3 separate regions of the Homo sapiens genome follow, and regions 2 and 3 are each linked to region 1. The links come from fine-mapping of genetic effects on gene expression. Tissue or cell type: whole blood. Region 1 holds a variant in brackets; each other region holds the start of a gene. All regions are shown on one strand. Distances are from middle to middle.

What was found. PIP is the estimated chance that this variant, and not a neighbour inherited with it, causes the effect.
Region 2: ARMC7 starts here. The variant in region 1 is fine-mapped to the expression of ARMC7 in whole blood (TOPMed, PIP above 0.99).
Region 3: KCTD2 starts here. The variant in region 1 is fine-mapped to the expression of KCTD2 in whole blood (TOPMed, PIP above 0.99).

Annotation. Positions count from the first base shown.
Region 1 is chr17:75,280,389-75,288,489 of GRCh38, forward strand. It overlaps SLC25A19 (solute carrier family 25 member 19), which reads right to left. Exons shown (of 8, transcript NM_001126121.2): 3 at 6,245-6,414; 4 at 5,916-6,071; 5 at 3,035-3,205. The coding sequence starts at 6,376. Among named protein-coding and RNA genes, the nearest start is that of SLC25A19, 5.0 kb to the right of the region's middle. The variant C/A (reference allele first, on the strand shown) is at 4,371.
Region 2 is chr17:75,105,523-75,113,608 of GRCh38, forward strand. It overlaps ARMC7 (armadillo repeat containing 7), which reads left to right and starts at 4,447. Exons shown (of 3, transcript NM_024585.4): 1 at 4,447-4,857; 2 at 4,941-5,084. The coding sequence starts at 4,767. It overlaps SLC16A5 (solute carrier family 16 member 5), which reads left to right. Exons shown (of 7, transcript NM_004695.4): 7 at 358-640. The coding sequence ends at 511. RefSeq lists an enhancer at 1-168 and a silencer at 4,438-4,517.
Region 3 is chr17:75,044,125-75,052,210 of GRCh38, forward strand. It overlaps KCTD2 (potassium channel tetramerization domain containing 2), which reads left to right and starts at 3,101. Exons shown (of 6, transcript NM_015353.3): 1 at 3,101-3,465; 2 at 5,096-5,204. The coding sequence starts at 3,127. It overlaps ATP5PD (ATP synthase peripheral stalk subunit d), which reads right to left and starts at 2,845. Exons shown (of 6, transcript NM_006356.3): 1 at 2,801-2,845. RefSeq lists enhancers at 2,312-2,381, 2,320-2,905, 2,790-3,084 and a silencer at 2,782-3,211.

The DNA.
Region 1 (8,101 bases):
CCCAGGCATGGTGACTCATGCCTGTAATCCCAGCACTTTGGGAGGCTCAGGTGGGCGGATCACTTGAGGCCAGCAGTTCCAGACCAGCCTGGCCAACATGTCAAAATCCCATCTCTACTAAAAATATAAAAATTAGCCAGGCATGGCCAGGCGCGGTGGCTCACGCCTGTAATCTTAGCACTTTGGGAGGCAGAGATGGGTGGATCACAAGGTCAGGAGTTCAAGACCAGCCTGGCCAACATGGCAAAACCCCGTCTCTACTAAAAATACAAAAATTAGCCAGGCGCGGTGGTGGGCGCCTGTAATCCCAACTACTTGGGAGGCTGAGGCGGGAGAATCACTTAAAACTGGGGGTGGAGCTTGCAGCCTCAGCGACAGAGTGAGACTTCATCTGAAAAAAAAATTAGCTGGGCATGGTAGCGGACCTGTAGTCCCAGCTGCTTGGGAGGCTGAGGCATGAGAATCACTTGAATCTGGGAGGCGGTCACAGTGAGCTGAGATTGTGCCTCCAGACTGGGCGACAGAGCCATACTCCGTCTCAAAAACAAACAAACAACAACCAAAAAAAAAAAAAAAAACCAGGAGTTCAAGACCAGCCTGAGCCTGAGCAACATAATGAGACCCTGCCCCTACAAAAAATAAAAAAATAAAAAATTAGTCAGGTGTGATGGCACACACCTGTGGTCTTAGCTACTTGAGAGGTTGAGGCAGGAAGATTGCTTGAGCCCAGGAGTTCGAAGCTGCAGCAAGCTATTGCAGCCATTGTACTCCAGCCTGGGTGACAGATCAAGACCCTGTCTCAAAAAATATATATAAATAATAACAATAAAATTATTCTTTCTTGGTTGAGAACACACAGACACACATACATATGATGCTATTCTTAAATATGTCCAGGAAACAGAGATCATGGTGGGGAGGTCTATTTCAGGATTTAATCCCTTGTTTTCACTCAGTAAATTCTTCCTCGAGTCTATCCCATTTCCACCAGCCCATTCTTTGTGGAAACCAAAGACACTCGCAATTGGCCGGGCGTGGTGGCTCATGCCTGGAATCCCAGCACTTTGGGAGACAGAGGCCAGGGGATCACCTGAAGTCAAGAGTTTGAGACCAGCCTGGCCGACATGGTGAAACCCTGTCTCTACGAAAAATATAAAAATTAGCCGGACATGGCATCACGTGCCTGTAATCCCAGCTACTCAGGAGGCTGAGACAGGAGAATCGCTTGAACCCAGGAGGCAGAGGTTACAGTGAGCTGAGATTGCGCCACTGCACTCTAGCCTGAGCAACAAAGTGAGACTGTCTCAAAAAACCAACCAACCAAACAAACAAAAAAACAAAGACGCTCTCATAATAATCCAGCAATAAATTCTCAAGTGGGCAGTCCTTGATCCAGCCCACTGCTGGGTAATTATTTGTTCTGTTTCATAGCAGTAGGTTCTGTCTTCCAGGGAGGCTGTGAGCTCCTTTGAGGCAGGGACATAGAGCACCCCGCACAGTGCTGCCCACAGTCATGGGTTTTACAAACTGACTGCCAGACAAACTGAAAACCCGAACCTCTCCCAGCTTTGCTTTCTGCAAGGACAAGAACTCAACCTCTGCCGAGTGCGGTGGCTCATGCCTGTAATCCCAGCATTTTGGGAGGCCGAGGCGGGCAGACGGCTTGAGCTCAAGAGTTCAAGACCAGACTGGGCAACATGACGAAACCCCGTCTCTAAAAAAATACAAAACTCAGCCAGGTGTAGTCTCAGCTACCGGGGAGGCTGAGGCAGAAGGATCACTTGATCCCAGGAGGTCGAGGCTTCAGTGAGCAGTGATCATGCCACTGCACTGCAGCCTAGGCAACAAAACAAGACACTGTCTCAAAAAATATATATATAGGCCAGGTGCGGTGGCTCACGCCTGTAATCCTAGCACTTTGGGAGGCCGAGGCGGGTGGATCACCTGAGATCAGGAGTTCAAGACCAGCCTGCTAACATGGCGAAACTCTGTCTCTACTAAAAGTACAAAAAATAGCTGGGCATGATGGCAGGCGCCTGTAATCCCAGCTACTGGGAGGCGGAGGCAGGAGAACTGCTTGAAATCAGGAGGCAGAGGTTGCAGTGAGCCGAGATCTGGCCATTGCATTCCAGCCTGGGCAATAAGAGCGAGACTCCGTCTCTTGAAAAAAATAAAAATAAAAATAGGTCGGGCACGGTGGCTCACGCCTGTAATCCCAGTACTTTGGGAGGCCGAGGCAGGCGGATCACGAGGTCAGGAGATCGAGACCATCCTGTGACTGGTGAAACCCTGTCTCTACTAAAAATACAAAAAATTAGCTGGGCGTGGTGGCGGGCACCTGTAGTCCCAGCTACTCGGGAGGCTGAGGAGGGAGAATGGCGTGAACCCAGGAGGCGGAGCTTGCAGTAGCCGAGACTGTGCCACTGCACTCCAGCCCGGGCGACAGAGTGAGACTCTGTCTCAAAAAAAATAAATAAATAACTAAAAATAAAAATAAAAATAAAAATCATATATTTAAAAAAAACATGCTTATCAAATAAAAGAAAAAAATAGATCGCACCACTGCACTCCAGCCTGGCAACAGAGCGAGACTCTGTCTCAAAATAAATAAATAAATAAATAAAAAATAGGCCGGGCGCAGTGGCTCATGCCTGTAATCCTAGCACTTTGGGAGGCCGAGGCGGGCGGATCGTGAGGTCAGGAGATCGAGACCATCCTGGCTAACATGGTGAAACCCCGTCTCTACTAAAAATACAAAAAAAATTAGCCAGGCGTGGTGGCGGGTGCCTGTAATCCCAGCTACTCGGGAGGCTGAGGCAGGAGAATCGCTTGAACTCGGGAGGTGGAGCTTGCAGTAAGCCAAGATCGCACCACTGCACTCCAGCCTGCATGACAGAGCGAGATTCTGTCTCAAACAAAACAAAACAGAACAAAACAAAAATAAATAAATAAATAAATAAAAAATAAAGAATGCTACCCCTGTGACAACACCTTCCTTATTTGGGCTTCCCCGGTCTGGCTCCTGGCCACTCACCTTGGGCTCACCCTGAGCTGCAAAGCGGGTGCGCAGAACATCCACGGGGTGCACAGTGAGGGTGGCCATACAGGCAGCCAGGCCACCACATACAAAGTGCACTGAGAATTCCCGGGCGTCATACACGCTGCCTCTGTGGACCAGCTCCGTCAGCATTTCAAATGACAAGAACTGCAAGAGTAAGTGAAGAAGTCACCGACAGCCCAAAGGATGAGGGTGAGGACCAAATACTCCCCAAATACATCACCCGTGACCCGGCTGGGGCCCAGGTGGAGGGGCGAGGAAAAGGTCAGGAAATGTTCTTCTTGAGCAGTGACAGCATATGATAAATACAACATTCTACGCAAAACTCGGATGCCATTTGATACTTGAGTAGAGTCAGACACTCAAAGGGTTAAGAAGATATATGGGGGCCAGGTGCAGTGGCTCACACTTGTAATCCCAGCACTCTGGGGGGCCGAGGCGGGCAGATCACGAGGTCACAAGTTCGAGACCAGCCGGGTCAACATAGTGAAACCCTGTCTTTACTAAAAATACAAAAATTAGTCAGGCATGGTGGCGGGCACCTGTAGTCCCAGGTACTTGGGGGGCTGAGGCAGGAGAATCACTTGAACCCGGGAGGCAGAGCTGCACTGAGCCAAGATCATGCCACTGCGCTCTCCAGCCCGGGCGACAGAGCAAGACTCGGTCTCAAAAAAAAGACTGGGTGCAGTGGCCCACGCCTGTAATCCCAGCACTTTGGAAGGCCGAGGTGGGCAGATCATGAGGTCAGGAGTTGGAGACCAGCCTGGCCAATATGGTGGAACCCTGTCTCTACTAAAAATACAAAAATTAGCCAGGCATGGTGGCGTGGGCCTGTAACCCCAGCTACTTGGGAGGCTGAGGCAGAAGAATCGCCTGAACCCAGGAGGCGGAGGTTGCAGTGAGCTGAGATTGCGCCACTGCACTCCAGCCTGGGCAACAGAGTGAGACTCTGTCTCAAGAAAAAATAAAAAAGATACATGAGAACAATGTATATCAGAAAATGTCACTGGCTAACTTAGTTTTCTGAGAACTGGGGAAGACGGCCATGCTCTGATTCCTGCAGGGACCCCTTCAGTGCAGCTGGCGGCGGCACCTGGTGGCGGCACTGTTCGAGAATCATTCTTTTCTGGGGCAGATTCTTTTGGGAGCATGTTCCACAGGGTGACCCCCTTACATTCAGATCTTTCTTTTTTTTTTTTTTTTTTTTTTTTTAGGGACAAGAGTGTCTCTCTGTCACCCAGGCTGGAGTACAGTGGCACAAACACGGCTCACTGCAGCCTCAACCTCCTGGGCTCCAGTGATCCTCTCACCT[C/A]AGCTCCTCAAGTAGCTGGGATTACAGGCGCATGCCACCATGTCCAGCTAATTTTGGTATTTTTTGTAGAACCAGGGTTTCACTATGTTGCCAAGGCTGGTCTCAAACTCCTGAGCTCAAGCAATCTGCCCGCCTTGGGCTCCCAAAGGGCTGAGATTACACACATGAGCCACCGAGCTTGGCCCTGTTTTGCTTTTTGAGGCAAGGTCGTGCTCAGTTGCCCAGGCTGGAGTGCAGTGGCTCGATCACAGTTCACAGCAGCCTTGACTTCTCTAGCTCAAATTATTCTCCTGCCTCTGGAATAGCTGGGACGACAGGTGTGTACCACCATATCTGGCTAATTTATTTTTTATTTTTAGTAGAGAGGAGGTCTCCCTAATGTTGCCCAGGCTGGTCTCAAACTCCTGAGCTCAAGCCATCCTCCCACCTCAGCCTCCCAAAGTGATGGGATTACAGGTGTGAGCCACTATACCAGGGCTATGCTCAGATCTTCCTTCAGCCAACTGAAGATGGCCTGGCTTCTTTTCTTTTTTTGAGACAGGGTCTGGCTGTGTTGCCCAGGCTGAAGTGCAGTGGCATGATCGTGGCTCACTGCAGCCTCCGCCTCCCGGGCTCAGATGCTGGGATTACAGGTGTGAGCCACTGAGTCCAGCCCACGCCTGGCTTCTTGAGACTATCCTGTTGCTGTATTTATTCGTCATGCTGCAATATCTGTTTGCAGACAAGTGCAGAGACAGGATCGCAGGGCATGCCCAGCCAGTAAGCACCTGACTTGGGCGGTCACTGTGATGTCACAGGAAGAGTAGGAAGGGACATCTCTGGCACTAGCTGCCTAGGTGGGGGTCGTGGCTCTGCCATTTTCTAGCCAGTGGCTTTGGTTGGGTTAATTATGTAAGCTCTGTCCACCTCAGTCTTCTCATGCATGACATGGGAGGGACAACAGCCCCTACCTTAAGGACTGCTGTGACAGAGTGTATGTGAAGTGCTTCCAACAGGGGCCTGGCCCATGGTTTGCACTGTACAGGGCTGGTTCTTAAACACATCTACTGCATAAAATCACATGCTGTGCACTATGACTATACTAGTGCTCCACTGAACGAAGCATGAGTTCTAACCCTAGCCCCGCCATGTGCAGGCTGTGTGGCCTCGGACAGCTGACTTCTCCTCCCTGAGATCCACATGACAGCTACCCTGCCCTCCTCATGACGGTGTGGTGAAGTTCAGATGAACCACATATGTGAAGGTGGTATTTCAAAAACTGAAATGCATTAGTGCTGTCCTTCGCCAAGCCTCACAGAAGGCATGACATCAAATCGGTCTCCAAGATGCAACACCTAAGTCACACAGGATAGACGCAGGGACATGGCGGAGGGCAATGCCTACGGTACTGCTGGTCAGGAAGGCTCCCGGGTGAGGCAGGTGGGAAGCGTGGGGCCTGCCTCTTCCGTCCTGCCCTGCGCGGCATTCCTGCTTGCCTCACCCTCCCTCTGCTCCTCCACTGAGCAACGTGACCCCAGAGGTCTGGCCAGGTCCCTTGCCACCTACTTGGACAGCTCCATAGCCTATGGAGAGAATCTGAGCTGGGACGTGTCCTTTCCAGAAAGCTGTCGGACCCTCCTCCTGCAGAATCTGCCTAGAGGCCTGGAGGATGCCATGGTACTTTGCGCTGGGGTCACTGCGAGACAGGCGCTCATGCTGAAGCTAGGAATCAAAATAAAAAAGGTCAGGACAGTGGGGTGGGCTGGAATGTGAAGGGGAACTTTCAGAAAAGGCAAGCCCTTCATCTGGATAGAATTCCAAGTTTTAGGAACTGCTTTTGCAAGAAAGACTGAACTTGTCCTCCAGTCCATTGCATGGAAAAAGGGGAAGAGTACCTGGAAACGGATCTTGATGACGTCGAAGGGACTGATCAGCGCCCGAGTAACAAGTCCAGACACAGACCCAGCCACTGCCACCTGGAACTTGGTGTTATTCCTGCCATCTGGTTTGGGGTCATAGCCAACCATCCCTGCCTCTGGCCCACACAATGTCCATCAGTATCAAGCTAAATGCAAGAGATACGGAATAAACACCAGGCAAGTTTCTTATGGTCTCTGCTCAAATATCACCTCCTCAGAGCAGCCCTCCCTGACTAGACTGTCTAAAATAGCACTCACTTTTGGACTGGGCGCAGCGGTTCATGCCTGTATCCCAGCACTTTCGGAGGCCGAGGTGGGTGGATTGCTTGAGCTCAGGAGTTCAAGACCAGCCTGGGCAACACTGCAAAACCCCAACTCTACAAAAAATACAAAAATTTAAAAATAAAATAAAATAGCACTTGTTTTATTCCTCTTTACAGTACTTATTACTATGGCATATTTGTTTACTTTTTTAGAGACAGGGTCTCACTCTGTTGCCCAGGCTGGAATGCAGTGGTGCCATCATAACTCACCATAGCCTTGAACTCCTGGGCTCAAGTGATTCTCTTGCCTCAGCCTCCCAATTAGCTGTCACTTAACAGGTGCAGGCCTGGCTAAGTTTTTTATTTTTGTAGAGATAAGGTCTCAATGTTGCCCTGGCTGGTCTCGAACTCCTGGCCTCAAGTGATTCTCCTGCCTCAGCCTCCTGAATTGCTGAGATTACATGCATGAGCCACAGCGCCCGGCACGCCATGGGTTATTTATACAGTACATTTGTTTCTTGTCTCTCTCCCTGACTAGAATGTAAGCCCGTGGAAACACGACCTTGGTCTCATTTGTTCACTCGTAAATTTCCGGTTCCTGGAATAGAGCCCATCATGGTAAGTGCTTAATAATATTTGAGAATCGAATGAACAGGCTTGATAGGCAATTGTTGGTCCCAGAGATCAACTGGTTTTCCAAGACATCTGGCAACTTTATAGCAAACTCCTGCTCACTGAGTGAGCCCACTCAAGTGTAACGCTGAGGGACTGAAGGACGTGCAGGGCTGGAGAACAGGGATTGGGATTCTTTAACAATCCCCCACTGTCCAAAGGAAGAGCCCTGAGGCCCTGAGCCCCTTCACCTTTCCCTTTCCCCTCCTGCACACACCTCAGACCACCCCGGCACAGTGGGGCCATGCTACGCTAGCAAATGATGCTCCTGGCCAGGCACCGTGGCTCACGCCTGTAATCCCAGCACTTTGGGAGGCCGAGGCGGGTGGATCGCCTGAGGTCAGGAGTTCAAGACCAGTCTGGCCAACATGGTGAAACCCTGTCTCTAATAAAAATACAAAAATTATCTGGGTGTCGTGGTGGGCGCCTGTAATCCCAGTTACTTGGGAGGCTGAGGAGGGAGAATCACGTGAGCCTGGGAGGCAGAGGTTGCAGTGAGCTGAAATCACGCCATTGCACTCCAGCCTGGGCTACAGAGTGAGACTCCGTCTCAAAAACAAAAAAACAAAACAAAACAAAAAAGAAAATGACGCTCCTGGGCTCCCCTGACTCAGACCTACTGACCTCTTCAGCCTCACTCTGGACCACTCTTCCCCTTCCCTCATTTAACCAGAGTGGTCTGACTGCTTCTGCCCAGTTCCTGGAAAACTCGGGGAGCACTCCTATCAATTGCCTTGCCTCTACTCCTCCAGTTCCCTACGTCTGAAATACAGCCCCACTCTCAGCCCCTACTCACTTTTTCAAGGCTAGCTCCTCTCATCCACCAGAGCTCAGCTAAAAAGCATCCCTTCCAGGAGATGTACTTTTTTCCTTTTTTGTAAAAACAAAAAACAAAAAC
Region 2 (8,086 bases), 170 kb before region 1:
TACACCTGTGCCTGTGACTGGCGGTCCAAGCTCCCCACACACACATCTTGCTGGTGCCTTTCCCTGAAGTCACCACCCAGGGGCTGGCTGTCATCAGCCCATTCTTGTCCCAGCAGGGTACCGAGGGAATGATAAAACAGAATGTGTTTGAATTACACACAAAAATGTTCCCTGCAGCAGGTCATAAACTCTGTGAACTAATGAAGCTGACAAACAGAGCTGGAGTACGTTTCCCCTCACCCTTCCTTTCCTCCTAGCTCAGCAAGGGGTGCTCAGGTTCAGGATGTTGTTTGTTGATTCAGGCTCAACCAGGCTCCGCAAGAAAACCTTATCAGGAGATTTTATTTTCATGAACAGGTGCCAGTCTTCCCGCCAGCCACGTCCAGCTGGCGTCAATAAGCATCTTTGGGGATGTCCTGCCTCCTCCAGGACCAGCCATGAGTGGCTCTTATGGCCAAAGGCGGTACTGCAGGCCAAGCAAACGGCTCTGGGCTGGAATAGCCCTACCTGAGTGCCCTGTTTGACTCCGCCACTATCTGCCATGTGAGTTGGGCAAATTGTTGACCACCTCTGAGCCTTGAAAAAGTAGGAGGTTACTTTGTTAGAGCAAAATAATAAAATTTAATTTTAAAAAAGAAAACGTAGGAGGTTGGTTTGGATGAGCTAGTCTCTTCCGGTTGAAAAGTCTGACTCGGTGAGCATCCTGACGACTCCATTTCCTTCTGGCTCCCCACCCAGTCTTACACTTGGCTGCCATCAATACCACATGCTCTGAAGGGAGAGTGCTTGCATGGACTTTGCCAAATCCTGTCTGCTCCATCTCAGTTGAATGGAAAAGGAGGGAGGTGGGGCTGGTAGATAGGTGCTTTTGGTGCTAGTATCCACCAGGTTTTGTGTGCATCCCGTAATGAGCCCACTTCCTGAAAACATTTAAAGAAAAAAGATATCAGCTGGAGATGGCAGTGCGCACATGTAATCCCAGCTACTCGGGAGGTTGAGGTGGGAGGATCACTCAAACCTGGGAGTTTGAGGCCAGCCTGGGCAACACAGCAAGACCCTGTCTTTTTTTTAAAAAAAAAAAAAAAAAAAAGGCTGGGTGTGGTGGCTCACGCCTGTAATCCCAGCACTTTGAGAGGCCAAGATGGGTGGGTCACTAGAGGTCAGGAGTTCAAGACCAGCCTGGCCAACATGGCAAAACCCCAGCTCTACTAAAAATACAAAAATTAGCCAGGCGTGGTAGCAGTCGCCTGTAATCCCAGCTACTTGGGAGGCTGAGGCAGGAAATTTGCTTGAACTGGAGAGGAAGAGGTTGTGGTGAGCTGGGATCACGCCACTGCACTACAGCCTGGGTGATGGAATGAGACTCGTCTCAAAAAACAAACAAACAAAAAAAACACTTTGGGAGGTCAGAGCAGGAGGATCGCTTGAGACCAGGACTTCAAGACCAGCCTGGGCAACATAGAGACCCTGTCTCTACAGAAAAATTAAGGAAAGGGAAAAAAAAAAAGCCAAGTGTGGTGGATCATGCCTGTAATCCCAACACTTTGGAAGGCCAAGATGGGAGAATCACTTGAGAGGCCACCCTGGGCCACATAAGGAGACCTCCATCTCTACAAAAAATTTAAAACTTAGCTGGACATGGTGGCACAGGCCTGTAGTCCAAGCCACTCAGGAGGCAGAGGTGGGAGGATCCCTTGAGCCAAGAAGCTCAAGGTTGCAGTAAGCTGTGATCACACCACTGCACTCCAGCCTGGGTGACAGAGACCTTGTCCCCCCTTCCCAAAAAAAAAAAAGGTATCAATGAATGTTCTGCATAGGAAACTTTCATCTCACCTGCTCCTAGGCAAGAATAGCAATCATCTCTGGGCAGAATTCCTTCAATAAATATTTACTGAGTATCTACTGTGTGCCAGAGACTGGGCAGAGGTAAGACCTACCAAGGGCTGAGAATTCCACCCCAAGGAGGGCCCCTCCCTGAGGCCTTAAGAAGGGAGAAGACTGGCTGGGTGCGGTGGCTCATGCCTGTAATCCCAGCACTTTGGGAGGCTGAGACAGGTGGATCACGAGGTCAAGATATCGAGACCATCCTGGCCAACAAGGTGAAACCCCATCTCTGCTAAAAATACAAAAATTAGGCCGGGCGCAGTGGCTCACGCCTGTAATCCCAGCACTTTGGGAGGCCAAGGCGGGTGGATCACGAGGTCAGGAGATCGAGACCATCCTGGCTAACACGGTGAAACCTCGTCTCTATTAAAAATACAAACATTAGCCGGGCGTCGTGGCGGGTGCCTGTAGTCCCAGCTATTCAGGAGGCTGAGGCAGGAGAATGGCGTGAACCTGGGAGGCGGAGCTTCCAGTGAGCTGAGATCGCACCACTGCACTCCAACCCGGGTGACAGAGCGAGACACTGTCTCAGAAAAAAAATACAAAAATTAGCTGGGTGCAGTGGTGCGTGCCTGTAATCCCAGCTACTCGGGAGGCTGAGGCAGGAGAATCACTTGAATCTGAGGCGGAGGTTGTAGTGAGCCGAGATCGCACCACTGTACTCCAGCCTGGCGACAGAGCGAGACTCCATCTCAAAAAGAAAAAAAGGGAGAAGACCAATGAGGGAAGATGGGGTGGCCCATCTGATTCAGCAATCCCCATCTAGCTGATTGCCTGCGAACCTCTAGAGAAGGTCTGGGGCAGTTCCTGGGCAGGGAGGGATGGAGCTTACTTCCATCCTCCCTGTTTCTGGGCTCCTATTTGCTGCTCTGTCCAGCAAGAGGCAGAGAAACCCCTTGGGCACCTAGGGGTAAGATGCACTTCCCAGGCTGCAGAGGCTCCCAAGAGAAGCCAAAGGGCTTTGGTGAGGGTCCTGGGGCCTAGGTACCCAGACTAAGTTAGAAACTCCTGCCTCAGAGGGTGTACATAGGGCAGGGGCTGACCACAAGGACCTGAAACCTCAGAGGTGAGGCCTGCTTCCAATGGGGCTGCAGCTGGCTGGAGTGTGACGGCCACTCTGCCTTCATCCGGGCCCAGGGCTTAAGATAATGGTCCTTGCCTTTGTCAGCCTAAATAACAGAGAGGCTCTCTCAAAGAAAATGATATCTATTTGGGCATAGGGCATTGCAATGGTAGTATCCATGCCATAGTAAACTATATGGGTATTCAGGGAGGTAAAGGAAGACAGGCTTTAAGGGAAAAAATAGGATTACATAATTGTTTTGAAATATTTATCCTTAGGTAGAAGGATTAATAACAAGGGTGACCGCTCAAGGTTGGACAAGCGGTTGCTGGGCAGATGGCCATTCAAAAGTATGTTTTGTGCAAGGTTGTGACGCCCTTTGTGCAAGGTTGTGGTTTTTGCAGAGTCTTTGTGATAGTTTTCATTATCAGGTATTTATGCACGAGAACCCTCTTGTCATGGGTTTCTTGGGCTGTGTCCGGGTTTTTTTGTTCTGTTTTTTAACACAAGTGACTCCATTTAGATTAACAACTTTTGCACTCTCAGGACACTCACAGCCTAAGCCACCTCTACCCCTACGTTGTCAAATGCGATGGGAGTGTGGCTAGACCACCTCCTTCCCTGGTGCTTTGTTTCCTGTAACCACGAGCAATCTATCACACACCCGCTTCCTGATAATCTCCGAGAAGGAATCGGCCGAAGGGCTTCAGCATCCAGAAAGCCCCGAAAGCGCCACAATCAAGGCTCCTCCTCGGGCTCCCCCGTGCTGCCCCGGGCGCGCGCCATCCACCCGGCTGACAAAAAGCACCAGGACATGACCCAGTACCCTTTGATTTCTGTCCAGAGGTGGCGGACCCACCTCGGGGCTGGGATGGAGGGCGGGTCGGGGTCGCTAGGCTTTTTGCAAAAGGGGCAAAGGACTGATGGGGGGCGTAAGGAGCTGACGCCCGCGCTCCAAAGGGGCGTCCTGGTCAAGGAGGATGGGCCGCGCCCCCGCCAGCCGTGGGGACCCTGGAGGTGCTTCTGCCTCGACGTCCTCCAACATGGGTGCTGCCAGACTCTGCTGCGCTCCTGAGTTGCTCCTGGCGGAATTCCAGCCACCCGACATGGGTGTCTCATTTTCGGCTTCTGGGCCATGTCGGGACGGCGGAGGACCCCGGGGGACCGGCGGGAGAGTGGGAAAGGTGGGGCGGGAAAGCCGAGCGAGGCCCTCACTCGCCCATCTGTTGGCGGGGGCGGCAAGTGGGTTTCTTTCTTGCGTTCAGATTTTGCAGTAATTTGCATCTGGACATGGGATACGGGAGGCCAGGCTGCTCCTCGCAGTACACCCACCCACGCCTGCACCTGCCTCAGCGAAGCCGCTCGCCGCTGGTTCCAGCACAGGCTAAAGAGCTTCGGCATCCAGAAAACCAGAAGCGCGCCGCGCACGCGCGCCAAGGAGTTCGGCGACGGCCCCGCCCCTTCGGGGGTAGGGACAGCGCGGCTTCCGCCGGGAGCCCGGAACCGAGCCCAGGAGCCGGGGACGGTGCGCCAGTGCCCCCTCCGCGAGCCCCAACCAGTAGACGGTTCCCTGTCTCCCGCGCCCCAATTTCGATTTTCAAACGCAACTCCTACAGGATTCTGAGACCCCGTCCCATCTCCCATATCCCATTTCCAGCTGCAAATTACTGCAGAATCTGAACCCAGGAAAGAAACCCATTTGCCGACCCCCTCTTCCCTCTCCAGACAGGTGGAGAGCGGGTGAGGGTCTCGCTCGGCTTTCCCCCTGCACCTTTCCCACCCTCCCGCCCGTCCCTGGGGGTCCTCCGTCACCGCGGCCATGGCCCAGAAGCCGAAGGTGGACCCCCACGTCGGGCGGCTGGGATACCTGCAGGCGCTGGTCACGGAATTCCAGGAGACCCAAAGCCAAGGTGAGAGCCACGGTGGGATCAGGTGGCAGGGTCCGCTGTGACCGCCGCCCGGACCTGGCTTCAGTGCCGCTTTCCCGTTGCAGACGCCAAGGAGCAAGTCCTCGCCAACCTCGCCAACTTCGCTTATGACCCCAGCAACTACGAGTATCTGCGGCAGCTGCAGGTCCTGGATTTATTTCTCGATTCGCTGTCGGAGGAGAATGAGACCCTGGTGGAGTTTGCTATTGGTAAGGGCGGGGCCCGTTCCCTAGATGCCTAAATGGGCCAGGGTGAGATAAGTGAATTAGAAGTGAGTCCTTGGGGCCGGGCGTGGTGGCTCACACCTGTAATCCCAGCAGTTTGGGAAGCTAAGGCGGGCGGATCACCTGAGGTCATGAGTTCGAGACCAGCCTGGCCCACATGGCGAAACCCCGTCTCGTACAAAAATTAGCTAGACGTGGTGGAGAGTGCCTGTAATCCCAGCTACTAGTGAGCCTGAGGCAGGAGAAGCTTGAACCCAGGAGGCAAATGTTGCAGTGAGCTGAGATCGTGCCACTGCACCACAGCCTCGGGGACAAGAGTGAGACCCCGTCTCAAAAAAAAAAAAAAAAAAAAAAAAGCCGCACACAGTGGTGTGCACCTGTAGGCCCAGCTACTCTGGAGACTGAAGCAGGAGGTATTGCTTGAGTCTGGGAGGCAGAGGCCGAAGTGAGCTGAGATTGTGCTACTGCACTCCAGCCTGGGCGACAGAGTGAGACCATGTCTCAAAAAAATATGTTTTAAAAAGAGCAGTTTTGTAGCCGGGCGCGGTGGCACACACCTGTAATACCAGCACCAGCACTTTGGGAGGCTGAGGTGGGCGGATCACCTGAGGTCAGGAGTTCAAGATCAGCCTGGCCAACATGGTGAAACCCCATCTCTAACTAAAAATACAAAAATTAGCCGGGCATGGTGGTGGGCGCCTGTAATCCCAGCTACTTGGGAGGCTGAGGCAGGAGAATCGCTTGAACCCGGTAGGCAGAGGTTGTAGTGAGCCAAGATGGCACCACCGCACCCCAGCCTGGGCAACAGTGAGACTCTGTCTCAAAAAAAAAAGCAATTTCAGGCGGGTGAGGTGGCTCACACCTTTAATCTCAGCACTTTGTGAGGCCGAAGCAGGGAGATCACTTGAGTTCCGGAGTTCAAGACCAGCCTGGGCAACATGACAAAACCCCATCTCTGCTTTAAAAAAAAAAAAAAAAAAATTAGTCTGGCGTGGTGTCCCAGCTACTCAGGAGGCTGAGGTGGGAGGATTGCTTAAGCCTGGGAGGTCAAGGCTGCAGTGAGCTGGGATTGGGCCACTGTACTCCAGCCTGGGTGACAAAACGAGAATCTGTCTCAAAAACAAAAATAACTCATATTTAGTGTTTTCATATCAAGAGAAGCAGAGATGGCTTGCAGTCTGTAACTTATGGCTTCTGTAGTTGTTATGATCTTAAGACCTATTGAGTTATTCACTGGGTAGATATTTATTGCGCGTGTACCGTATATGCAAGCTACTGCTCTAAATGCTGGAGTATGGTGAACAGCTTAGGGAAAGGTCTTTGCCCCTCAGGAGCTTACATTCTAGTAGGGGGGACAGGTGGTTAGCAAACAAAAAAGATGATGCTCAGAAGGAAGTAAATGGGGTGATGAGAGACAGCAGTGGAAGGTGGGGGTTACTTCAGTTTTGGCCATCATGAGAAAGGCATTTTAGCCGGGACACAGCATGGGCAAAGGCCTTAAAACAGGAAGGAGCCAGACGGAAGGCTGATGTGGGAGGATCGTTGCAGTGAAGTGGAGAATGGCACAAAAAGAGTTTAGAGAGTTCAGTGGCACCAGAGCTTGCAGGAGTTTAGATCTAGGCCGTGGGAAATAGTTTGAAGCAAACAAAATTTTGAGAACAAACAAAAATTCCTTTTTCAAGCAATGCAGTGCCCACCTGTAGTCCCAGATACTCAAGAGGATCGCTTGAGCCCAGGAATTTGAGGCTGTCGTGTGCTGTGATTGCACGATTGCACCTGTGAATAGCCACTGCACTGCAGCCTGGCCAACACGCGCGTAGTCACCTGGCTGAAGTCTTGTCAGGCTTCTCCACTGTAAAATTACTCTTTCTTTCCCCTCTTTACGTATGATACCCATTGGAAGGAAGTCACTACATAAATTATCTTAAATCTCTCTTTTTATTCTCTTTTTCTTTTTTTTTTTTTTTTTTTTGAGATAGGGTCTCACTCTGTCACTTAGGCTGGAGTGCAGTGGTGTGATCATAGCTCACCATAAACTTGAACTCCTGGGCTCAAGCAGTCTTCCTGCCTTAGCCTCCCGAGTAGCTGTGACTACAGGTGTGCACCACCATGCCCAGCTAATTTTTTTTTTTTTTAATTTTTTGTTGTGACAGGATCTCACTGTGTTGCCCAGACTGGTCTCGAACTCCTGGCCCCAAGAAATAAATCCCTTGTAACCCTAAACAGACCCTCATTTCATAACACTGATTCTCGAAGGCCCCAACCAGGAATGCAAATGTTCCCCCTTCCGGTTTGTCTCATTGCCTCTTTGTGGTTTCTTTATCCCCTTTATTTCCTATAATCCAGAAATTGGGTTGAATGTCTTGATAGGATCAAATAACACATTTTTTATTTTATTTTATTTTATTTTATTTTATTTTTTGAGATGGAGTCTTGCTCTGTCGCCCAGGCTGGAATGCGGTGGTGCAATCTCAGCTCACTGCAACCTCTGCCTCCTGGGTTCAGACAGTTCTCCTGCTTCAGCCTCCCGGGTATGGGATTATAGGCGCCCGCCACCACGCCCGGCTAATTTTTGTGTTTTTAGTAGAGACGGGGTTTCACCGTGTTGGCCAGGCTGGTCTCAAACTCCTGACCTCAGGTGATCCGCCCGCCTCAGCCTCCCAAAGTGCTGGGGTTACAGTCGTGAGCCACCACACCTGGCCCAACTAACACATTTTTAAAAATACTTTTTATTTATTTATTTTTTTTTTTGAGATGGAGTCTTGCTCTGTCGCCCAGGCTGGAGTGCAGTGGCGCGATCTCGGCTCACTGCAAGCTCCGCCTCCCGGGTTCACGCCATTCTCCTGCCTCAGCCTCCCAAGTAGCTGGGATTACAGGCGCCCCCCCACCAGGCCCGGCTAATTTTTTGTACTTTTAGTAGAGACGGGGTTTCACCGTGTTAGCCAGGATGGGCTCAATCTCCTGACCTCGTGATCTGCCCGCCTCGG
Region 3 (8,086 bases), 240 kb before region 1:
AGCGATTCTCCTGCCTCAGCCTCCGGAGTAGCTGGGATTACAGGCACCCACCACCACACCCAGCTAATTTTTGTATTTTTTTTTTTTTTTTTGAGACGGAGTCTCGCTCTGTCGCCCAGGCCGGACTGCGGACTGCAGTGGCGCAATCTCGGCTCACTGCAAACTCCGCTTCCCGGGTTCACGCCATTCTCCTGCCTCAGCCTCCCGAGTAGCTGGGACTACAGGCGCCCGCCACCGCGCCCGGCTAATTTTTTGTATTTTTAGTAGAGACGGGGTTTCACCTTGTTAGCCAGGATGGTCTCGATCTCCTGACCTCATGATCCACCCGCCTCGGCCTCCCAAAGTGCTGGGATTATAGGCGTGAGCCACCGCGCCCGGCCCTAATTTTTGTATTTTTAGTAGAGACAGGGTTTCTCCACGTTGGCCAGGATGGGCTGAAACTCCAGACCTCAGGTGATCCACCCACCTCAGCCTTGCAAAGTGCTGGAATTACAGGCATGAGCCACCGCGCCCGGCCTGCATTTTAAGAGGTATTCAACACATGTGAAAATGTGAGAAAAATACAGAAAACGACTACAGCCACTTAAAAAAAAAGTCAGAATATAGGAAAATAGTCCTCTTTAAGTAAGATCAGGGTCAGATATTAAAAGACTGCAAAGTCAAAAATCTCTATAAGCTTGGAGTGGAATGCAAGGGAGGCGGAAGCAGTCTTTCTCAGGATCTTCAAGAAAGTTGTCAAACACCTGTCCTGTCCTTCCTTTCTTTCTCAGGACAGCCTGTTTCCTGTTGTGGAGGGGAGGTGTTAAGGCAATTGGCATGTGATTTTAAAGTTACCAGGGAACCAAGCACCCTTACAGACTTTCCCAAACATCAGTGTATCGGGGAACTTGCCCCGATAGTCACATAGGTTCTTTTCTATTTTCCTAAGCGTCGACTGGCTTGACAGAGTACAAAAGAGAGAAATTTTAAAGCTGGGCGTCCGGGGGAGACATCACACGTTGGTAGGATCCGTGATGCCCCACAAGCCACAAAAACCAGCAAGTTTTTATTAGGGAGTTTCAAAAGGGGAGGGAGTATACGAATAGGTGTGGGTGACAGACATCAAGTACTTAACAGGGTAATAGAATATCACAAGGCAAGTGGAGGCAGGGTGAGATCACAAGACCACAGGACCAGAGCGAAATTAAAATTGCTAATGAAGTTTTGGGCACCATTGTCATTGATAACATCTTATCAGGAGACAGGGTTTTCAGATCAACCGGTCTGACCAAAATTTATTAGGTGGGAATTTCCTTTTCCTAATAAGCCTGGGATCGCTATGGGAGACTGGAGTTTATTTCACCCCTGCAGTCTCAACCATAAGAGACAGGTACGCCCCAGGGGGGCCAGTTCAGAGACCTACCCCTAGGTGCGCATTCTCTTTCTCAGGGATATCCCATGCTGAGAAAAAGAATTCAGCGATATTTCTCCCATTTGCTTTTGAAGGAAGAGAAATATGGCTCTGTTCTGCCCGGCTCACCGGCGGTCAGAGTTTAAGGTTCTCTCTTGTTCCCTGAACAATTGCTGTTATCCTGTTCTTTTTTCAGGGTGCCCACATTTCATATTGCTCAAACACACATGCTGTACAATTTTTGTAGTTAACACAATTATTACAGGGTCCTGGAACGATATACATCCTCAACTGACAGGATTAAGAGATTAAAGACAAGACAGGCATAGGAAATCAGAAGAGTATTGACTGGGGAAGTGATAAGTGTCCATGAAATCTCTACAATTTATGTTTAGAGATTGCAGTAAAGACAGGCATAAGAAATTACAAAAGTATTAATTTGGGGAACTAATAAATGTCCATAAAATCTTCACAATCCACGTTCTTCTGCCATGGTTTCAGCCGGTCTCTCTGTTTGGGGTCCCTGATTTCCCGCAACATCAGTGGAAAATGGAAGTCACAAATAACTTTGTGTGTGTGTGTGAGTGAGACGGAGTCTCGCACTGTCGCCTGGGCTGGAGTGTAGTGGCGTGGTCTCGGCTCACTGCAACCTCCGCCTCCCGGGTTCAAGCGATTCTCCTGCCTCAGCCTCCCGAGCAGCTGGGATTATAGGGGCCTTCCACCACGCCCAGCTAATTTTTTGTATTTTTAGTAGAGGCGGGGTTTCACTACGTTGGCCAGGCTGGTCTCGAACTCCTGACCTCGCGATTCGCCCGCCTTGGCCTCCTAAAATTCTGGGATTACAGGCGTGAGCCACCGCGCCCGGCGAAATTTTTTTTAATTCTTAAAAATCTATTGCTTAATCCCCAGCGCCTAGAACAGATCATGCGCATAGGAGGTGCTCAATGAATCTTTCTTGAATGAGTAACCGAACTCTGCACCCGAGGAGCCCTGAACGCTCTATACGTTCGAATCCTGGAAGCTGCCGAAGGGGAAGGGCGCAGCCCCGCAGCCAGCTGAGCGTCCCTCGGCAGGTTAACACTGTCTGCGTAATGTTTCCCCAGTCCCCCCACCAAACTATTGAAGTCTGCCGCGCTGGGAGCGGACTGCACGAGACACGGCTTGTGGCAGCGCCTACATCAGCGGCGCCTGGGACACAGCCGGGCCCCCCTGACCCCGCGCGCCAAGGAGGGCTGAGGAAGGGATCGCGGGGCGAGGAGCGGCAGCTACACAAGGGACACTCTGCCAGCGGGGCAAGCCGAGGGCCCAGCGTCCTTGACGGGGGCGTGACAAGGGTCGGCGTGAGGTTTGGAGAGGGCAGAGCAGAGGAGCCCTCCAGGGATCGGATCCAATGCCCCAAGCCCCACTCACCTTCACCGACCCTGGCTGCCCACGGTCCTCCGCAGCAAGTAACGGAAGTGGGTCACGGGAAGATCTTTCCTCAGCCAACCCCAAAGCCAAGGGGGTGGGCCTTGCTTCGCAGATCAGCCAATAGAGATGAGGGCTGGTTCCGGAAGTATCTTCCCGGGGGCGGGCACAGCGCCTCCCCCGCGCGGGTCCCCGGGCGCTGGTTGGGGGCGCTCCCGTCCCTCTCCCCTCTGCCCCACCCCCGCCGATGGGCCGGCCCGGCTCTCCCTGCCGAGAAATGGGCCGGCCCGGCTGCGCGCGGGCAGCAGCGGTGGCGGCGGCGGTCCAAGATGGCGGAACTGCAGCTGGACCCGGCGATGGCGGGGCTGGGAGGGGGCGGCGGGAGTGGGGTGGGCGACGGGGGTGGCCCAGTCCGCGGGCCCCCCAGCCCACGCCCGGCTGGCCCCACGCCCCGCGGGCACGGCCGCCCGGCTGCCGCCGTCGCGCAGCCGCTGGAGCCGGGTCCCGGACCACCCGAGCGGGCAGGGGGCGGCGGCGCGGCCCGCTGGGTCAGGCTGAACGTGGGAGGCACCTACTTCGTGACCACCAGACAGACCTTAGGCCGGGAGCCCAAGTCATTTCTCTGCCGCCTCTGCTGCCAGGAGGACCCGGAGCTGGACTCAGACAAGGTGTGCCCCGCCCTCGGGCGCGCCCCCGGGCCTTCGAACCCCCTGGTTTCTCGTAGATCGGTCCCCAGAGTCCTGAGACACGCTCCTCACAGGCAGCCCCCTCAGGCCGGGACCCCATCCTCCCCCTCCCTCCCACACTACTCGCAGGGGCCTCAGAGGGACCTCCCACTCCCCTTCTTCCATGCTGAGGCATACTCTGGCTTTCTCCCCGACCCCGCCCTTCGTTCTCTGAGACTCCTTCCCACACTGCGCCCACCTGCACCCACGAGAACGCACTCCACACCCCTTCTCCATATTCTCTGCCCCTGACATCCCACTGAGATCTGCATGAGTTTTCCCTGGCTCCTCTTCAGTCCCCCCACTGCCGGTGCCAGATGCATCCAGAACTGGGTCAGGGTTAGCTCAGGCATCCTTGTAGCTTTCTCAGACTCCCTCTCGGACCCCTCTGCCAAGTTGGGCTTCCACAGCTGCAGGAAGCGCTCCTTGTGATATCACACTGCTTTTCTATAGTCCTGGTCGCAGAACTTTTATCTGTTAACAGTCACTGGTTTAGGTCCATATTTAGATCAAATGCGTTTTTTGGAAAGAGGTTACTGTTTGCCGCTGCAAATCTAGGCTAAGACAGAAGGAAAATGAAAATTTTCCCGGGAAAATTTTGGGCAGGATGCATGGCTGCTAACCAAAGGGTTGAGAGGTGACAAGACACTTAAACCATTTCCAGTTTGAACTGTGTCAATTTCTTTTTAACTTTACGTATTCACCTTTAAGTTCTCAACTTAAAGGCACTGACCATAACTCACACCATCTTATATCCCATATAGCACTCAGCTGGTGACCTCAAAACAGAGCTGGAGTTGCGTAAACATTTGTTGTTTTCGTTTATTCCTCTTCTCTAAGAAATCTCAGATTGATGGAAACCTATCCTGCCCTAACTTTAAAGAGATTTCAAAACCCTTGCTTATAAAGGAATTATTTTTATCTACTCTATATCCTCCTTGTGGTAATAGAAGCCAGTTTCTTCTTGTTCCTTTTACTGTAAAGATGAGTAGGATTAAAGCTGCTCAGAGCCAAGTCCTGGCAGTACCGAGCTTCCTCTGGGCACAGAGCTGGGGTGTGTGAGATTACAGCTGGCAGTGCAAACTCCCACTGATGTTGGCCTTGAGCTCAGGAGCATTGCCAACTACACAGAGGTTTTCTTGGAATTAGGAATGCAGTTCAGAGGCAGTGGAAAAGTCAGAATGTCCATCTCAAGCAAAGATTTCAGTTACACAGCTACGGCATTTTCTCCCTTTCTTAATAACAAACACGCTACAGAAGAATGTTTGTCACTGTAATTATTGTCCAGGCAAAGATTGCAAATTCCAGCCAGTAAGTAAACGCCTAAATGAGTATGACTGTCTGTAACACCCTACCTAAGATGATCTTAATGTACAAGATACATAAAGCTATAGCTTTCTTACCAATAGTTTGTGACAAATGTGTAACAAAATTTGCCATCACTAAAGTCTTTTTTAGCTGATGGAATGAATTGTTGTCTTGGGGCGCTGACAAAGATGGTGAAATCCTGCCCTGCCTTTGTTTAAAATACTCCTCAAAGGTCCACAATGATACCCTTGTGTTTGGTTGGCAGGATGAGACAGGAGCCTATCTGATTGACAGGGACCCCACCTACTTTGGTCCTATCCTCAACTACCTCCGCCACGGGAAACTCATCATCACTAAGGAGTTGGCAGAAGAAGGTAAGCGCACTGTTTGCATTGGGGATTTTCAAAATGCAAGTAGAATCTTTAAAGTTGTTTTACAGATTTCAATTTTGTTTGACATTTTCATCAGGCGCATGTGCAGGTATAGTTTCAGGTTTATGAAACAGAGCAGAAACTACCAGTCTTGTCTGAGGGAGTCATGATTAAGGAAGCCTCCTTAGGCTTTGTTCAGCTTCCTGGGTGAGAAGGAAGATAGGTAGCTCCGCTTTGCAGATAACTTCAGGAGTTCTTTCCGAATCTCCAGAATTGTCACGATCCTTTTTTTACATTTGTTTGTGTGCTAGCAGTGAGTGTCTGTAGTCTGAAGAAGCAAGACATCTCTGACATTCAATTATTTATAGTTTTAATTTTGGTTTGAACTCACAGTTGTACAAAAATAATAAAGGCTTGGCCTCATTTCTTTTAAGACTCTGGCCTCATGCTTCCCTGTAAATGTTTGCAGCTGACCTAATTCATTCTCTAGTTCATTGTCAGGTGTATCATTACTTGCCTCATCTTTGTGGTTTGTAGGGCATTGGGACTATAAGTGGGTCTAGTCCACTTTCTACAAGGCTTGGCATGGTCCCACTGAAGGCATTCAGTTGTAAAGGGGACTGTCCCTAAATCCAGGGCACCCTGATCTGGGAGCTTTGGCTCTGAGTAAGAAAGCTTGTAATGGCTGTACTAGTTAATGAAGTGACTGTGAAACAACTCTGTTTCAGCTAGTAGAAAGAGGAATTGCTCTCTCTCTCTTTTTTTAAATGTCCCTTTTTAAACAATATTTCAAACGCATACAGAAGTAATGGGAATAGTACATACAGTGAATTCCTTGCATCCACTATCCAGCTTCAACAATTACCAACTCATGGGTGATCTTAATCTTATTTATTTTTCTTTTTTAATTTTTGTAAGTACCTAGTAGGTGTATATATTTATGGGGTACATGAGATTTTTCTTTTTTTTTTCTTCGCTCAGGCTGGAGTGCACTGGCACAATCTTGACTCACTGCAACCTCAGCCTCCTGGGTTCAAGCGATTCTCCTGCCTCAGCCTCCCAAGTAGCTGGGATTACAGGCGTGCACCACCATGCTTGACTAATTTTTTGTATTTTTAGTAGAGACAGGGTTTCACCATGTTGACCAGGCTGGTCTTGAACTCCTAACCTCAAGTGATCCACCTGCCTCAGCCTCCCAGAGTGCTGGGATTACAGGCCTGAGCCTCCGCGCCCGACCTGAGATGTTTGGATATAGGCATGCAGTGTGAAATAAGCACATCATGGAGAATGGGGTATCCATCCCCTCAAGCATTTATCCTTTGTGATACAAAAATTCAATTACCCTCTTTTAGTTAAGTATCTTTTCTAATGCCTTTAATTAAAAAAACTTTATTTTGAAGTAATTTAAAACTTCAAAATAAGCAAGAAAAGAGCAAGAATAACACAGAGAACTCCCTATATCCCAGATTAACCAATTTTCAATGTTATTTTTGTCATATTTGGGGTATGGGGAGATCTTTTTGTTGTTTTTTTAAGAGTCAGAGTCTATCTTATCTTGCCCAGGCTGGTCTCAAATGTCTGGCCTCACATGCTCCTCCTGCCTCAGCCTCCTGAGTAGCTGCGATTATAGGCATGAGCCATCATGCCCAGCTTTTTTTTTTTTTTTGAGACGGAGTCTTGCTCTGTTGCCCAGGCTGGAGTGCAGTGGCGCAATCTCGGCTCACTGCAAGCTCCACCTCCCAGGTTCACGTCATTCTCCTGCCTCAGCCTCCCGAGTAGCTGGGACTATAGGCGCCCACCACCACACCCAGTTAATTTTTTGTATTTTTAGTAGAGACAGGGTTTCACCATATTAGCCAGGATGGTCTCATCTCGATCTCCTGACCTTGTGATCTGCCTGCCTCAGCCTCCCAAAGTACTGGGATTACAGACATGAGCCACCGCGCCCGACCTTTTTTTTTTTTTTTTTTTTTTTTGGCGACAGAGTCTCCCTCTGTTGCCCAGGCTGGAGTGCAATGGCACTATCACAGCTCACTGCGACATCCACCTCCCGGGTTCAAGCGATTTTCCTGCCTCAGCCTCCTGAGTACCTGGGATTACAGGTGCATGCCACCACGCCTGGCTAATTTTTTTATTTTTGGTAGAGACGGGGGTTTCACCATGTTGGTCAGGCTGGTCTTGAACTCCTGACCTCGTGATCCACCCGCCTTGGCCTCCCGAAATGCTGCGATTACAGGCGTGAGCCACCATGCCCGACCTTTTTTTTTTTTAAATCATATTTGCATTGTCCTTCATTCTCTATTTCCCCCTCCCTACCCCCATCCTCTTGCCTCTCCCACCACAGTTATTTCTGAACTATTTGAGAATAGATTGCAGATTTCACCCCTTAATATTTGTATATATTTCCCAAGAACAAGGATACTGTTTTATGTAACCACAGACAGTACAGTTATCAAACTCAGGAAATTTAATACTGATGCTTTTATCTACAGCTTATATTGCAGTTTTGTCAGTTGTCCTAATAATGGCCTTTATAGCAAATTTATTCCTATAGGATCACACGTCTCATAGTTGCCCTAAGGCCTTTGAGTTCATTTAGCATGCAAGTCTTTAAATGGTTGCCTTTTATATTGTTCAAATGATTAGCATCCTATTAAGTTTGGCCCACATAAATTTGTACACACACCTCCACCCCCACCCCCAGTCCTTTTGAGGGCAGATTGGACAAAAATATCAAGTTCAGGAGGTGTCCAACATGACTAGTTCCAGGAACTAAGTGACATATGGGAAAAGTGTCCTGCAGCTAATGGGCAGGTGCCAGGTAGGGAAAGGAGGGTTGAAATGGAGTGAGCAGAACATACCCTGGCGTTTGACTAATTTATGTT